Homo sapiens: one gene and its partner. The protein of the gene in region 1 purifies or fractionates together with the protein of each later gene. This does not show direct contact. Each region holds a gene or a part of one and is shown in the gene's direction. Other genes may lie near its edges.

What was found. The genes of interacting proteins can lie anywhere in the genome.
Region 2: the proteins of HMG20B (region 1) and GSE1 purify together in Homo sapiens (affinity purification with mass spectrometry; 4 studies listed by BioGRID and IntAct, with this or other methods). This does not show direct contact.

The regions. Positions count from the first base shown.
Region 1 is NC_000019.10:3,568,265-3,575,951, forward strand, and holds the start of HMG20B (SWI/SNF-related matrix-associated actin-dependent regulator of chromatin subfamily E member 1-related), read left to right. Parts: upstream 1-4,679; 5' UTR 4,680-4,730; exon of another isoform or gene 4,731-5,027; 5' UTR 5,028-5,045; coding exon 5,046-5,083; exon of another isoform or gene 5,084-5,427; coding exon 5,428-5,536; exon of another isoform or gene 5,537-5,553; intron 5,554-6,118; coding exon 6,119-6,322; intron 6,323-7,275; coding exon 7,276-7,396; intron 7,397-7,687. UniProt on the Homo sapiens protein: Required for correct progression through G2 phase of the cell cycle and entry into mitosis. Required for RCOR1/CoREST mediated repression of neuronal specific gene promoters.
Region 2 is NC_000016.10:85,608,937-85,616,321, forward strand, and holds the start of GSE1 (genetic suppressor element 1), read left to right. Parts: upstream 1-4,385; 5' UTR 4,386-4,455; coding exon 4,456-4,462; exon of another isoform or gene 4,463-4,892; intron 4,893-6,594; exon of another isoform or gene 6,595-6,618; intron 6,619-6,637; exon of another isoform or gene 6,638-7,385.

The DNA.
Region 1 (7,687 bases):
ACGCAGATTCTCTAGAGTTTCAACTGTAAGCAAAAATGACTAAATAAAAAATATATATTCACGTTAAAAAAATTTTTTTTTTTTTTTTGAGACGGAGTCTCGCTCTGTCCCAGGCTGGAGTGCCGTGGCGGGATCTCCGCTCACTGCAACCTTTGCCTCCCGTGTTCAAGCTATTCTCCTACCTCAGCCTCCCAAGTAGCTGGGATTACAGGTGCCCGCCACCACGCCCGGCTAATTTTTGTATTTTTAGTAGAGATGGGGTTTCACCATGTTGACCAGGCTGGTCTCGAACTGTGGACCTCGTGATCCTCCCACCTCAGCCTCCCAAAGTGCTGGGATTACAGGTGTGAGCCACCGTGCCTGGCAATTTTTGTGTTTTTAGTAGGGACAGGGTTTCTCCATGTTGGCCAGGCTGGTGTCAAATTCCTGACCTCCAGCGATCCACCCACCTCGGCCTCCCACAGTGCTGGCATTACAGGCGTGAGCCACCGCGCCCAGCCCACGTCTTTATTAGGAATACGCACATGTGTACGTGTGTAGGCATGTGCTGTGGGTGGAGTCATGTCCCCACAGAATGCACAGGTTCCTGTCCTAATCCCCAAGGCCTCAGAATGTGACCGTATTTGGAAAAAGGTCATTGCAGATATAATGAGTTAAGATGACATCATTAGGGTGGGCCGTGACGCAGTATGACTGCTGTCCTTATCAAAAGAGGAAATTTGGGTGCAGACACGCACATAGGGAGAACCCCACATGAAGATGCAGGCAGACATCGGGGTGTCACTCCTACAAGACAAGAAAAGCCCAGGATTGCTGGCCAATGCCAGAAACTGGGAGACGCCAGGGACAGATTCTCTCCCCGCCCTCAGAAGGCCCCAGCCCTACCCACACCTTCCTCTTGGACTTCTGGCCTCCAGAACTGTGAAACAATAAATTTCTCTTGTTTAAGCCCCTCAGTTTGTCGTAATTATTACCTAGCAAACCAATGCAGTGTGGTGTGCGTGTGTGTGTGTGTGTGTGTGTGTGTGTGTGTGAGTGTGGCTAGGAAAAATTTTAAAAAGAGATGCGGCCGGGTACAGTGGCTCACGCCTGTAATCTCAGCACTTTGGGAGGCCAAGGTGGGCGGATCATCTGAGGTCAGGAGTTCAAGACCTGCCTGGCCAACATGGCAAAACCCCGTCTCTACTAAAAATACAAACATTAGCTGGGTTTGGTGGCACGTGCCTGTAATCCCGGCTACTCAGGAGGCTGAGGCAGGAGAATCACTTGAACCTGGGAGGCGGAGGTTGCAGTGAGCAAAGATCACGCCACTGCACTCCAGCCTGGGCGAATGAAACTCTATCTCAAAAAAAAAAAAAAGAAAAAAAAAAGGCCTGGCACAGTGGCTCACGACTGTAATCCCAGCACTTTGGGAGGCCAAGGCGGGTGGATCACAATGTCAGGAGATCGAGACCATCCTGGCTAACACGGTGAAACCCCATCTCTACTAAAAAATACAAAAAAATTAGCCGGGCGTGGCAGCGTGTACCTGTAGTCCCAGCTACTTGGGAGGCTGAGGCAGGAGAATGGTGTAAACCCGGGAGGTGAAGCTTGCAGTGAGCCGAGATCGCGCCACTGCACACTAGCCTGGACGACAGAGCGAGACTCTGTCTCAAAAAAAAAAAAAAAAAAAAAAAAAAAGCAATAAGCTGACGATAGGAAATGTAATGAAATTAAAGAGGTCTGAGCTGCACTTCCTTAATTCTGTACAAGTGAAATGGATGTGAACATGATTTGCATAATAAAAATTAATTAGAAAACCAAAGAATTATAAGGCAAGTCATCCTTAATGGAGAGCTTCCACCTCTAGGATTATAAATTGGTATACTGTTCCTGGCTTCATGCTATAAAAACTGGCAAATAAATCATAGTAATAAATGACAAAAAACAAACAAAAAGGCCGGGCGCAGTGGCCCACCCCTGCAATCTAGCACCTTGGGAGGCCGAGACGGGCGGCCACCTGAGGTCAGGAGTTCAAGACCAGCCTAGCCAACATGGTGAAACCCTGTCTCTACTAAAAAAAAAAAAAAAAAAAAAATTAGCCGAGCGTGGTGGCGGATGTCTGTAATCCTAGCTACTTGGGAGGCTGAGGCAGGAGAATCGTTTGAACCCGGGAAGCAGAGGTTGCAGTGAGCCGAGATGGTGCCACTGCACTCCAGCCTGGGCGGCAGAGCAAGACTCCATCTCAAAAAAATAAAATAAAATAAAATAAAATAAATAAACAAAATAAAATAAATGTTCAATTAAATTGTTATTGACTATGGCCGGGAGGGGTGGCTCCACACCCAGCCTCACCTAGACTATTTTTAAGTGAGCAGAGAGACACAGGGGAGGCCTGGGAGGTCAGAGAGCTGATTAAGCAACAGAGCCAGGTCTGGCGTGTGGAACCGTCCAGATTCCAGGGCCAGCTCCTCTTCCTCAGCCCCGGGCTGCATCTTAGGACAATGGGCTTATTGAGACTTAACTCACATATAATGCACCCATTTAGAGCATACAATTCCATGGTTTGTAATATATTTCCAGAGTCACGCAGCCATCACTGAAATCAAATTGTAAAATACTTTCATCACCCAAATGAAAACCGCATCCCTCTCAGTGGTCATTCCCCACCCACTGGCACCCACACGTCCCCCTCCTGTCTCTGTGGATGGGCCTTTCCTGAACATTCTGATCACACACTGTGTGACCTTTGTGTCTGGCGTCTCTCACTGAGTGTGATGTCTTCTAGGTACATCCATGCTGTGACTTGTGTCAGAGACTCGCTCCTTTTTTTTATGGCTGATAATATTCTTTTTTTTTTTTTTTGAGACGTAGTCTTGCTCTGTTGCCCAGGCTGGAGTGCAGTGGCACAATCTTGGCTCACTGCAACCTCTGCCTCCCAGTTCATGGGATCCTCCTGCCTCAGCCTCCCATGTAGCTGGGATTACAGGCGTGCACCACCACGCCTGGCTAGTTTTTGTATTTTTAATAGAACTGGAGTTTCACCATGTTGGCCAGGCTGGTCTCGAACTCCTGACCTCAAGTGATCCGCCTGCCTCCCAAAGTGCTGGGATTACAGGCGTGAGCCACTGCGCCCGGCCCATGGCGGATAATATTCTGTTGTAAGGATATATCCCGTCATCGATCCATGCATCATTAGCAGACGTTTGAGTTGTTTTCACTTTTTGGCTATTATGAATCACGCTGCTACCGACGCTTGTGTACACGCTTTTGTTTGAACACCTGTTTTCAGTTGTCTGGAGTATATTCCTAGGAGTGAACTGCTGAATTGCATGGTGATTCCACATTTATTTAACCCTTTGAGGAAATGCCAGTCTGTTTTCCAAAGCAGCTGCATCTGCCTCCTAGACATCTGAAGGATTCAATGAATGTGTATTGAGCATCCACCATGGGCAATGCTGTGAACCAAACAGGCAGGCCACAGGGAGAAGCCGACTTATGGAGGCAAAAAAAAAATCAGAGAAGGCCTGGCTGAGCAAGTGACATTTAAGCGGACTTGAGGAAGAGGAAGTGGGCCGGGCGTGGGGGCTCACGTCTGTAATCCCACCACTTTGGGAGGCCGAGGCGGGTGGATCACGAGGTCAGGAGTTCAAGACCAGCCTGGCCAAGATGGTGAAACCCTGTCTCTACTAAAAATACAAAAATTAGCCGGGCGTGGTGGCAGGCGCGTGTAATCCCAGCTACTCGGGAGGGTGAGGCAGAGAATTGCTTGAACCCGGGAGGCAGAGGTTGCAGTGAGCCGAGATCCAGCCACTGCACTCCACCCTGGACGACAGGGTGAGACTCCGTCTCAAAAACAAAAGAGGAGGTGAGCAGCCCCAACTTGGGCCAGAAGCCTAGACTGCTGCTGGGAGGTCCCTGATCCACCAGAGCGGAGCCTCCTGACCCATCCTCACGAAGTCCTTGCCATCTCCCTTCACCACCATCTTTCCCCAAACACTTCCAGCCCAGCTCCCAACCCCACCCCCTGCCTGACCCACACCCAGTTCTCAGCTTCCCAGCATCCCAGTCTCTCTGTCCTGGATATCGTGTGATGTCCCCGTTGCACAGGGGGGAAAGCCGAGACCCCAGAGGGAGAGCAGCCCCTATGGCCAGAAGCCCTCGGATCCGGACGTCGGGGGCTCTAAACTGAGTAAATACATAGGAAACTTCTCCGCTAGGTTTTGCAGGATGTTAAGAACAGGTCCCACCTTGCCTAGGGCTGGGGACTGCCTCGCAGGACCTTAACCCTAGCAACCCACCTCCGTCCCCATGGCAACCGGGGCGGGGCCCGACCCGGATCCGCCGGTCGCCCCATCCGGCAGCGGCTGGGAGTCTTGCCTTCAGAGAGGGAGGAGGAGTCCGCGCCTCTCCTACTGGCCCTTTAAGAGGCTCCGCCCGGCAAGTCCGCCACTCGCTCCCGATTGGTCCCGAGCGCGGCCGAGCGCAGCCGAACTTGACGCACCGCCCGCAGCCTTCCTTACCAACCTCCCACGCGACTCAGCAACCTCCCCAACCAATCGCCGGCCGGCGCGCCGATCGGTATCTGCATGGGCTCGCCCGGGGGGAAGGTCTCACCCAATGGGACCGTTCGCCGAGGCCTTCATTAGCATGCCGGGGGCGGGGAGGGGCGGGGCGGCCGACGGGGGCGGGCTGCGGGCGGTTGGTTGGAGCGTCGCGCAGTCGGGAGGTCCGGGAAAGTTTCTTTGGAGGTGAAAACAGCCGCGGAACTCCGGGCCCTGAGAGGGGGCGGGGGTGCAGGGGTCCCAGGGCCGGGCCGGGGTCTTTCCTGGCCCGGGGGAAACCGGCCCAGGCCTCCCGGGGGGGGCAATCGCCCAACAAAGGATTCTTGGGGCGCCCGCCCTCGAGGACTTCCCTGCCCCTGGATCCGGCCCCCCCAGCGCTCCGGGCCCGGCATCCCGGGGCTCTCCATCGCGGGGTACCCCAGTTCGCGGTCTGCCATCGGGCAGCCCGGGCGCTACTCACCTCCGCCCGCGTCCGTGTTCCAGGTCCGGCCCGGAGCGGCCATGTCCCACGGCCCCAAGCAGCCCGGCGCGGCCGCCGCGTGAGTGCACTGATCCCCTCCCCACGCCCTCGCTACTTTCCCGGCTGCAGCCCTAGCTCCTGAACCCCTGACCCAGTCCCTCCCGCCGGAGTCTTGACTCCCCCACCTGGGTCAGGGGGCTTCTCCCTCCACCCAATTCTGCACCCCCCACCTCGGCCTCCAGTCCCTCCCAGGAGCCCCGCTTGTCCCACCTTCCCCGGATACTGACCCCATCAGACCCTGCCTCCTCGGGCTCATGCACTCTCGCTGCAGCCCCGCCGTCGGGGGTCAAAACGCCCTGGGGTGGGCTTTTGGGGGAGGGGAGATTCTTGGGACGGGGCTGACCGCGGTATCCTTGGCTCCAGGCCGGCGGGCGGCAAGGCTCCGGGCCAGCATGGGGGCTTCGTGGTGACTGTCAAGCAAGAGCGCGGCGAGGGTCCACGCGCGGGCGAGAAGGGGTCCCACGAGGAGGAGGTGAGAGTCCCTGCGCTGAGCTGGGGGAGGCCCCGGGCTCCCGCCCCAGCCTCGAAGCCCCGCCCCAGGCTGGATTTGAATTGCTTGTGGCTCCGCCCACAGCCCATTTTCCTCTGGAAGCTGAGACCCCGCCCCGTGCCAGCTGCCACGCCCCTGACAGGTCCTCTGCCACTCTAAGTCCAGGCCCCGCCCACCGCACAATGCCAGCTCTGCCCACTCTAAGGTCCCGCCCACTTCCACTCCTTGGGGGCGGCACCCTCCCCTTGGTCCTGTGGGCCCGTTCTCCAGCAGAAAACCACGCCCACCAAGCAGAGGCCACGCCCACAACCGAAGTCAACGCCAACCCTGTACTCAAACCTCGGCCCATAGTTCCTCAGATCCCCTCACCCCTGGCCAGGGATCCCTCTAACCCACCGTGTCCCGACTGCTGACCGGGCCCTACCTCCATCTTTTCCGGGTTCTTCCTCCCAGCTAGGCCCCGCCCCCATCCCCGCCCATACGCGTTAGGCCCCGCCCATGCCCCTCTGAGCCCTGCCCCAGTACGCCAGGCCCCCCTCCCAACGACGCAGCCCGGTTCTGCAGCCGGTGAAGAAACGCGGCTGGCCCAAGGGCAAGAAGCGGAAGAAGATTCTGCCGAATGGGCCCAAGGCACCGGTCACGGGCTACGTGCGCTTCCTGAACGAGCGGCGCGAGCAGATCCGCACGCGCCACCCGGATCTGCCCTTTCCCGAGATCACCAAGATGCTGGGCGCCGAGTGGAGCAAGCTGCAGCCAACGGAAAAGCAGGTGGGCGGGGCGGGGCGCCGAGCAGGGCTGGCGGGGTCCACGGACTACCCCCCAGTAGCCCCGACCCCCAAAGGATTCCACGTGCAGGGTTTTTCCTTCTTCCTGGAGAAATGCCCACCCATAACCAACTTTTTTTTTTTTTTTTTTTGTGAGATGGAGTCTTGCTCTGTTGCCCAGGCTGGAGTGCAGTGGCGTGATCTCAGCTCACTGCAACCTCCGCCTCCCGGCTTCAAGCAATTCTCCTGTCTCAGCCTCTCAGGTAGCTGGGATTACAGGCGCGTGCTACCATGCCCTGCTAATTTTTGTATTTTTAGTAGAAATGGGGTTTCGCCATGTTGGCCAGGCTGGTCTCGAACTCTTGACCTCAAATGATCCGCCCACCTCAGCCTCCCAAAGTATTGATATTAAAGGCGTTAGCCACCGTGGCCAGCCCATGACCAGCTTTTGGGGGCGCGGCTAGCAAGAGGCAAGACAGATTGAAAACTGGATGACCAACAAAGATATGTCTAAGAAGTCAGGATGGGGCCTGGATTTTTTGCGAAACCCGATTTTCATATCCTGTTAGTTTAAAAATTGCAAAAACATCACGGAAATGTAACAAAAGCCATCACTGCTTTGCATCCCTGTAAGTGAGATTTCAAAGAGAGAAACGGGTGCGGGAGGGAGTCCAGGCATCCGCATACGCTGGAGGTTGGGTTCCTGCCCATGACTCTGGCGTCCGGGAGTGGTTTGTCAGGGCTGGAGGTGGGGAAGAGTCCGGGGCATGGGAAGTGAGGTGGGAGCTCGGAGGTCCCTGAGCAACAGGCTGAGGAGCCGGTTCTGTCTGCCTGGAGGGAATAGGGAGCTATAGAAGGTTCAGGAGAGGGGAGGGTGCTGTGAAAGCAGAGTGATAAAGACTGGATCCTGGCGTTGGAGGCTTCCCCTGCTTCAAGCCTTCTGGTGCTGCCCCCCAGCGGTACCTGGATGAGGCCGAGAGAGAGAAGCAGCAGTACATGAAGGAGCTGCGGGCGTACCAGCAGTCTGAAGCCTATAAGATGTGCACGGAGAAGATCCAGGAGAAGAAGATCAAGAAAGGTGGGAGGGGTCGGGCGCGGTGGCTCACGCCTGTCATCCCAGCACTTTGGGAGGCCGAGGCGGGTGTATCACCTGAGGTCAGACCAGCCTGGCCAACATAGTGAAACCCTCCCCCTCTACTAAAAATACAAAAATTACCTGGGCGTGGTGGCGGGTGCCTGTAATCCCAGCTACTCGGGAGGCTGAGGCAGGAGAATTGCTTGAACCCGGGAGGTGGAGGTTGCAGTGAGCCAAGATTGCGCCATTGCACTCTAGCCAGGGCGACAGGGCGAGACTCCGTCTCAAAAAAAA
Region 2 (7,385 bases), on another chromosome or scaffold:
CCTTGGGTTAGGCTGTGTGCTGTCCTGCTGAGCCCTAGAAGAAGCAAGAACCAGAAAGAACGTGTCCGGGATCCATCCTCCGCCAGGGCTAGGCCGTGTGCTCAGACTTAGTGAGGTTGTGACAGTCACGGGTGGCGCCCGCACCCCTGAGCACCTGACGTGGCCCAGGTTGATGCCCAGGCAGTGGTGGTGGTGGTCTGTGCTGTCATCCTGCCCCCTTGCCTTCCAAATTTCCTTGCTGCCTTGAAGTGTCCCCTCTGTCAGCATCTGCCCTCTGCTGTCTGTCCCTTGCCGCCCCCACCTTTAAAAACAACCAAAAAAAGACAAGGTCTTGCTCTGTGGCTCAAGCTGGAGTGCAGTGGCACAATCATACCTCAGCCTCAGACTCCTGGGCCCAAATGATCCTCCTGCCTCAGTCTCGCGAGTAGCTGGGACCACAGGCTTGTGCCATCACACCCAGCTAACCCTGGCCTCTCTGAGGTGCTTGCTGAAGGCTTACTGGAATTTTCAGTTTTGTTTCTGGAAAACCAAGTGTGAAACACAGCCCAGGGTTTAGTGTGTTTGTTGAGTGAAAAACCGCCCACCCTCTGTGGTTCAAGGCGTCCCTTTCTTTCTGGTGGATCCTCCTAGGACTCCCGTCTCCAGACACCCCTCTTAGTTCCTGAGCTCAGGGAGTAGGTTTAAGGTGTCTCATGTTCATCTGAGATGGAAAGCTTTCTTTTTTTTTTCCTCCTTTGAAACAGGGTCTCACTCTGTCGCCCAGGCTAGAGTGTAGTGGCACAATCTCAGCTCACTGCGACCTCTGCCTCCTGGGCTCAAGGGATCCTCCTACCTCACTTTCCCAAGTAGATGGGACTACAGGCACACGCCACCATGCAGGGCTAATTTTTTTTTGTTTTTAATAGAGACAGGGTTTTGCCATGTTGTCCAGGCCGGTCTCGAACTCCTGATCTCAAGCAATATGCCTATCTTGGCCCCCCCAAAGTGCTGGGATTACAGGCGTGAGCTACCATGCCCTTAGGAAAGCTTTTAAATTTTAAATCTCTTTTGTGGTGCAGGTCTAATAGGTTCCAGGGCTTGTGGAGGTAGGGCTAGAGTTTGCACCTAGGTGTCACTGAAGCAGGTACCTGAGGCAGGTGAGGGGCTGGGAGCCTGCCTTCCGCTCTTGGAGGCACAGTTTAGCTTGGCAGGGGCCTCAGGGTGTGAGCAAACGCGCACCAGGCACCAGCATCCTGTTGCCTTGGCACAAAGCACAGTCCGTGGTAAGGAGCACCGCGTGCAGCATCCCCAGGGCAGGTGTCCTGCTCTGGGAGGTGCCTCCGTAGGCCTGGCCCTGGCACCTACCTAGCTCCTTCCAGGCAAATGGGAGTGGAGGGTGGGAAGGAGGTCCAGGGAAAGAGAGCTGTGCCCAGGAAGGGCTCGCACTATCTGGGGGCGCGGGGCTGTGGGTAGGGCGCTGCTTAGGAAGAGAGAGGAGGAGGAGCAGGCCTGGAGGGAAATGGAGGGAGGCCAGCCTTAGCCCCAGTGCTGGGAAATTAGGAGTCAAGCGACAAACCTCGTTAGCGAGGAGCGCGCCGGCTGCAGGAGAGCAATTCCCACCCTTAAACTCGGAGGCCGTGCTCCGGATTACTAATTTCCGGGGGCCGGGCGCACTGACAGTGAGTGTCATCCATCTCCCCCTTGCCAGCCCGCCTGGTGGCCGCCAGCGTTTCCCGGCCAGGACTCACAGAGCGGCTCGCTGCTGCCCCCCGGCGGTTGCCGGGGTGTCCGGCAGCGCCTCGCTCCCCTAGGCCTACTGGGTTGGGAAGGGGAGTGACTTCCAGGTGTGAGCAGTTTGGGGCGCAGCTTGCATGTCACCTGTGTGCACATGATCTTGAGCAACTCAGGGCCTCAACTTCCTCATCTGTGAAACGGGACCAGACCACCCATCTCGCAATCCAGGGGAGCTAGATGTATACGCCGGAGGGATTGGCCGGCTCTAAAAAGCCGAGTGATGCACCTCCCAGTGGCCACTCCACACGTTTTTGTGGTTGGCCGTCGTGGTCCTGCTCAAACAGGTGGAGAAACCTAACCCCACCTTCACCCCTGGCCCAAGGGCCTCTCCAAGGAAGAAGGGAGTAGGTGGTGGCACCGTGTCCGGGTGAGAGACCTGGAGGTGGGGCCTAGGTGTCTACCCGGCCAGGTGCGAGAGGTTCATTTGCATGCTGTTCCCCTCCCCCCGCAGCTTGTAATCCAGGTGGGAAAGGGGTTGGGCCAGTCCCGGAGGTGAATTTTGTTTTTAAGGCTCGGGGCCAGTCGTCGTCCATTCCTTCCTAACACCTCCCTATCCTCCCCTCCCCCCGCCCGTGACTCCCAGTGGGGGTGGAGGCGCCCCTCCCCCTCCCCCTCCCCCTCCCAGCCCTGGCCGCCTGGGGCCGGGTGAATCCGCCGGCCAGTGCGGGTATAAATTACCCGGGCCCGCGCGGCCGAGCCACCGTGTGGTGCGTAAATTATAGCGTCCGGCCAAGGCCGCAAGGGGGGCGCCGCCGGTGAGCTGGCGGGTCGTGCGGGGAAGCAGCACCCCCGCGCCGTGCCAGGGCCGGCCAGCGTCCGCAGGTAGGAGCCAGTAACGGCCCGACCCGGCCTCGCCGGTCCGTTTCCCTTTTCGTTTGTGGTCTGCCCGGAGCCTTGTGCAAGGCGGGGGGCCGGCCCGCGTGCGCCCCCACCTCCGGGCCCCGGCGCGCGCTCGGTCGGAGGTCGAGCGGGGAGCGTGGGGCCTGAGGGAGCCCGCCAGACCCTGCCCCCCGGAGGGCACACAGGCTGGTTCTGCTCCCCGCTGGCGCGGGCCCCGAACGCTCTAGGCCCGCCAGCGTCATCGGGAACAGATGGATGGGGGGTGGCAGGCGCCCAGCGCTCGCTCCCGTCGCAATCCGGGCTGGCGCGGGGAGGGGGAGGGAGGAAGGCGGGGGAGGCGGGCTCGCGGGGACGGCAGCGTGCGCGCCTGCCAAGCCTGGCGCGGGCATGTCCCGGGGCAGGTTTGGGGCTGGCACGAGGGGGCTGAAAGTCGAAACCCGCACCGCAGCGCAGCGCTGGGGCGGCCGCCCAGGGGGTGCTGGTTTGCCCCAGGGCTCAGAAGTAGGGACGCGCTAGATCAGAGGGGTGTTGGAAGAGGATGAGGAGGGAGCGACCCCGGGGCCTCAGAGCCGCCCGGGGGGGTTACAGCCCAGGGCGCCAGAAGGCGGCAGGGGAGGCTCGCCGACCCCTGCCCCCGAGGCCCGCCCCTTTAACCCCGAGCTTCCTGGGGACGCGCCCGCCGCGATGGGGTGGGGGCGGGGCGGGGCGGGGCGGGGTGGGCGGAGCCGGGGGGTGGGAAGGCTGGGGCCTTCAGTCCCTCTCCGCGCCGCCTGTGGGTGCCCAGGAATTTCAGGACGCTCCCTGAGTCATTCCAGTCAAGTGCCTGGGTGAGGTAGGGTGGGGGGTGCCAGGAATGGGGAGGCGCTGCGCTGGGGCCAGAAGCGCAATGGGTCGTGCCAGTTTCTGGAGGCGGGCGACCTCGCCTCTGACCGCAACCCCAGCTACTTAATGATCCCCCTGGCGAAGCGGCGCCTCCGTGGGTTCTCCAGCCCCTGGGCCGCGGGTTCTTTAAAGAACACCCCCCGCAGCGGCCCGCAATTGTGGCCTTCCCAAAAGTTACTTAAAACTGGGGGGTGGGGTGCCTTATGGAATTTTGAGGCCAAGTTCTTAGTATTCAGCCTTTTCTAGTTGGGGTAATAAGGTCAGGCATGGGGGGGGTGGGGCTTGGGTACACAGTCTGTTTTGTGTCGCCTCCCCCCACCCCACGCGCCACCAGCGCCCAGAAAGTTGTTCTCCAAAAGGCCTCCAGGACACGGAGTTACCCGTCCGCCCATTATTGGGCCTGCTCTGTGTCAGGCACTGTTCTAGGTTCCCGGGACGCAGCTGCGAGACAGGGCTCCGCTCACGTGGCGAGGGTGCTGCACTACTTTAAGAGTTAAGTGGCCGGTCTTAGCCACCAAGGTCCCCGGGACCCCCGAGCAGTCCAGCCAGGGGCTCCCGAGAGTGTGGGGGTGGCACCTCCGCGGCCCCGCTGGTGTCCCCGGCTCACCTGGCCGGCCGGGCCGGGGAGGGGCGTGTGCCTGGGCGGGTGGATCCGGGCGCCCGTCGGTGCGCGCGCGCGCGCCTGTGTGTTTGCGGCTGAAACCCGACACCTCCCGCTGGCTGAGGTCAGGGAGCCGGGAGCGAGCCAGTGGCCCGGGAGTGGGCGGCGTTGCGTTTGGGTGTGTCCTCGGCGGCGACAGCAGCAGGTGTTTCTTGGCCGGGGCCCCGGAAGCTCCACCTCCCCAGCGGGCCCGAGCTGCCGCCGCCGAGCAGCCCCGGGTGAGATAAGCAGTTTAGACAAACACTGGGCGACGGTGGCTCCAGCATGTATCAGCCGAGGTGGAGCTGCGGGGCCCTGGCATGAAAGGTGAGCGCGCCGCACCCGGCCGGGGACGGGGTCCTCCCCCCTCCCCCCACCGCACTGTCCTCCTGCAAGTTCGCGGGTTTCGCGGGGGCGGCCGCCAACGGCTCCCGGGCAACTTCCCCGGAGTGTTAGCGGCGATAAGAGCCGGGAGGGCGGGCAGGCGACCAAAGGCCACCCCCTTCCTCCGCCCGCGGGTCGCAGCCTGGGAGGCCTGGCTGCGGGCGGGGACTCGGGGGCTCCGGGCTCAGGAGTGCGCTCAGCGGGGGATGGGGGGGGTGCGTTTAAGTGCGTGCGGGCTAGAGGGCAGGTAAAGTGGGGGGATGGGGGTGGCGGGGGGAGTCTCCGAGAGCTGCGGGCGCTGGAGAGCTGGAATGAAAACTTTGCGGCGACGCGGGAGGGAGCGAATGGGGGTGGCTGTGCGCCCCCGCGGCAGGTGCTGGCGACGGCCGAGGAAGCGGGGGTGTGGGGGGGGGGGGTGCTCGCTACTGGGGCCGCGCCGGTTAGGGTTCTTGTCTTGCTCCCCTCCCCCTCCCCGACCCCTTGTCTCGGGGGAGTTGGTCGGGAGGGCGGGACCGCAGCCTGCCGGGTTTGTGACCCCCACGCCCTGCTTCCCGAGGAAGGGCGCGCCCCGGGCTCGGCCGCTTCTCTCCTCTCTCTCCCCCCACCCCCGGCGGAGCGGCTCCCTGCCCCTCCCCTCCCCCCCGCAGAAGATGGCTGCCCCAGCCTCGGAGGTGGGAGAGGGATTGCACATCCGCCGCCCCCCACCCGCACTGGCCTTTTTCCCTCCCCGGCCCTTCCTGCTCCGCCTGGATGCGCCTCCCCGCCCCCAGCCCTCCCGGGCCCTGCGGCCGCGCTGATGGGCGGCGAGTGGCCCGACCGAGTGGAGCCGATTCAATTATATTGCAGCACCAGAGACACCTCCTCGGCCGCCCGCCCGCCTCTCTAGCAGGCTAATTAAATTCCCTTCATGGAGGCGGAGCGGGAGTGGAGCTCACCCTCCCTGCGCCCGCCCACCCCCAGCTTTCCGCCTCCCCTCCCCAGCGCCGGGTGGGGGACCAGGGGGGCACTTAGAAATGTGCGGTGGAGACTCGAGGCGCAGGCCATAGGGAGGGGGTTCCCAGATGGGGGGAAGGGACACCGCGACACCCTCATTAGATGGGGGAGTGGAGGCTGCGCCCTTTCCACGTGGTGGGCCGGGGGCCTGGCCGCAGTGCCCGTCTGAGTTCCGAGGGCAGCGTGCTGGCGGTGGGGGAGCACCTGCCGGGTTCCCAGCTGGGCGGTGGATGCCAGCCGGAGTTGAGTCGGTTTGGCTCTTACAAACTAGCCTTTGTACAAAGTGCGTTTAAAACACACTAAACCCTTGCTCCCCGCTGCGGTGCCTTATCTGGGGCCTGAGGGGTAGCGGCCACACAGGTTGGGGTTTGGAAACAAAAAGCGGGGCCACCAAATGGAAAGAGGGCTCCTTTTGTAAAAGGCGCCTGAACAAAAGGCCCAGCCGCACTCCGGGTGGAAGCGAACCCGCCTAAGCCGATTTCCAGGCGGCGGGGGACAAAGGGGCAGAGAGAAGGTCTTGGTGGGGGCGTTGTGAAATGTGCCCCCTGGTCGGCCGTCTCGTCCTCTCCTCTGGGATTCCGTGCTCCCGCCTCCCGGCAGGGGTGGAAGGGGGAACCCAGGTGAGCAGCCTTCCCTGGCCTCCCTCGGTGTTGCTTAAGCTTGGGGCACTTCAGTGTTGCTCACCCTGTGTTTACGGCCGCCTCCACCAGCAGGGACGGCAGAACCTGAGGCACAGGCTGTGCCTGACTCAGCCGCCACGCCACAGGTGAGGGGCCCAGGGCGCAGGCTCCGACGGCGAAGTGTGTCATCCCGGCCGCCGGCTGTGCAGGGAGTCGCCCCGCCCAGGTAGATTCAGGAGCGCTGGAAGAGGCCCTGGCCTGCGAGAGCAGCGACCTCGGTGCTTCCTAAGAGACTTTCCGAGACAGCCAGCCCCGTGTCGGCAGCGTTCCTGATCTCCTGCGGGCCGGGTGCGAGGATGGCTTTTGTCACTCTGGCAGCAGACACCAAAGTCAGGAGGGGAAGCTGGGGAAGCTGGAGCCAACCACGGTTTTGACGCTTGGAGTTTTCTTTCCTGGAGCCTTGGGGGCGGTGCCGGGCCAGAGCTGGTGAGAGCCCGCCAGGAGCCTCCGGTGACCTAGGGTCAGCCCTGCCTTGGGAAGGGAGGTCGGGAAGTCCTAGTTCTAGGCACAGTGAGGCTGAGCTCAAAACAAGGAAGGCAACAAGGTGTCCACTGTGGCGCAGGCTCTGAGCTGTTTGGGACAGTTTTTAGGATCTTGGAGTGTCAGAGTTCAAAGGGGCTTGTACATCTCCAAACTCGGTGTTTTAAAACTGCTGCTGGCCAGGCCTTTCCAAGCCCAGTTAAGCCACAGCCTCTGGGTTCCTGACCCGGGTCTGGGGGTTGTCAGAGCTCCCCAGCTGATCCTAACGTACACACTGGGGGTAGGAACAAGGGGCAAACTGAGGCTTGGGGCCAGGCGTGGGGCGGACACCGCGCTCACAGCAGGAAGCCTCCTCCGATGGCCCCGATGAGCCCTCCCCTCCAGCAGTCACTTCCCTGTCTCTGGGGGAAGTTCAGGGGCTGCAGATCTGAGTGCCTTGTGGTTTCAGAGCAGAAGCCAAGCCTGCCTGTGGGCTCAGCATCGCCGGCCCCAGGAAGAGCCAAGTCTGCACAGCGCCACTCTGTGGCAGACCGGGGTCCTGCACCTCTGAGCTAGAGATTCCCCCCTTCCAACCCCTGGAGTCCCAAATTCCCCTTGAGCCCCTGGAGCAGGTACTGTCTGTCCTCCCCTGCTCTGAAGGAGGCGGACTGGGGGGCCTTTGGGCTCGGAGCCCCGAGCTGAGGGGCAGGAGCTGGTGCCTCCCACTTTTCTGG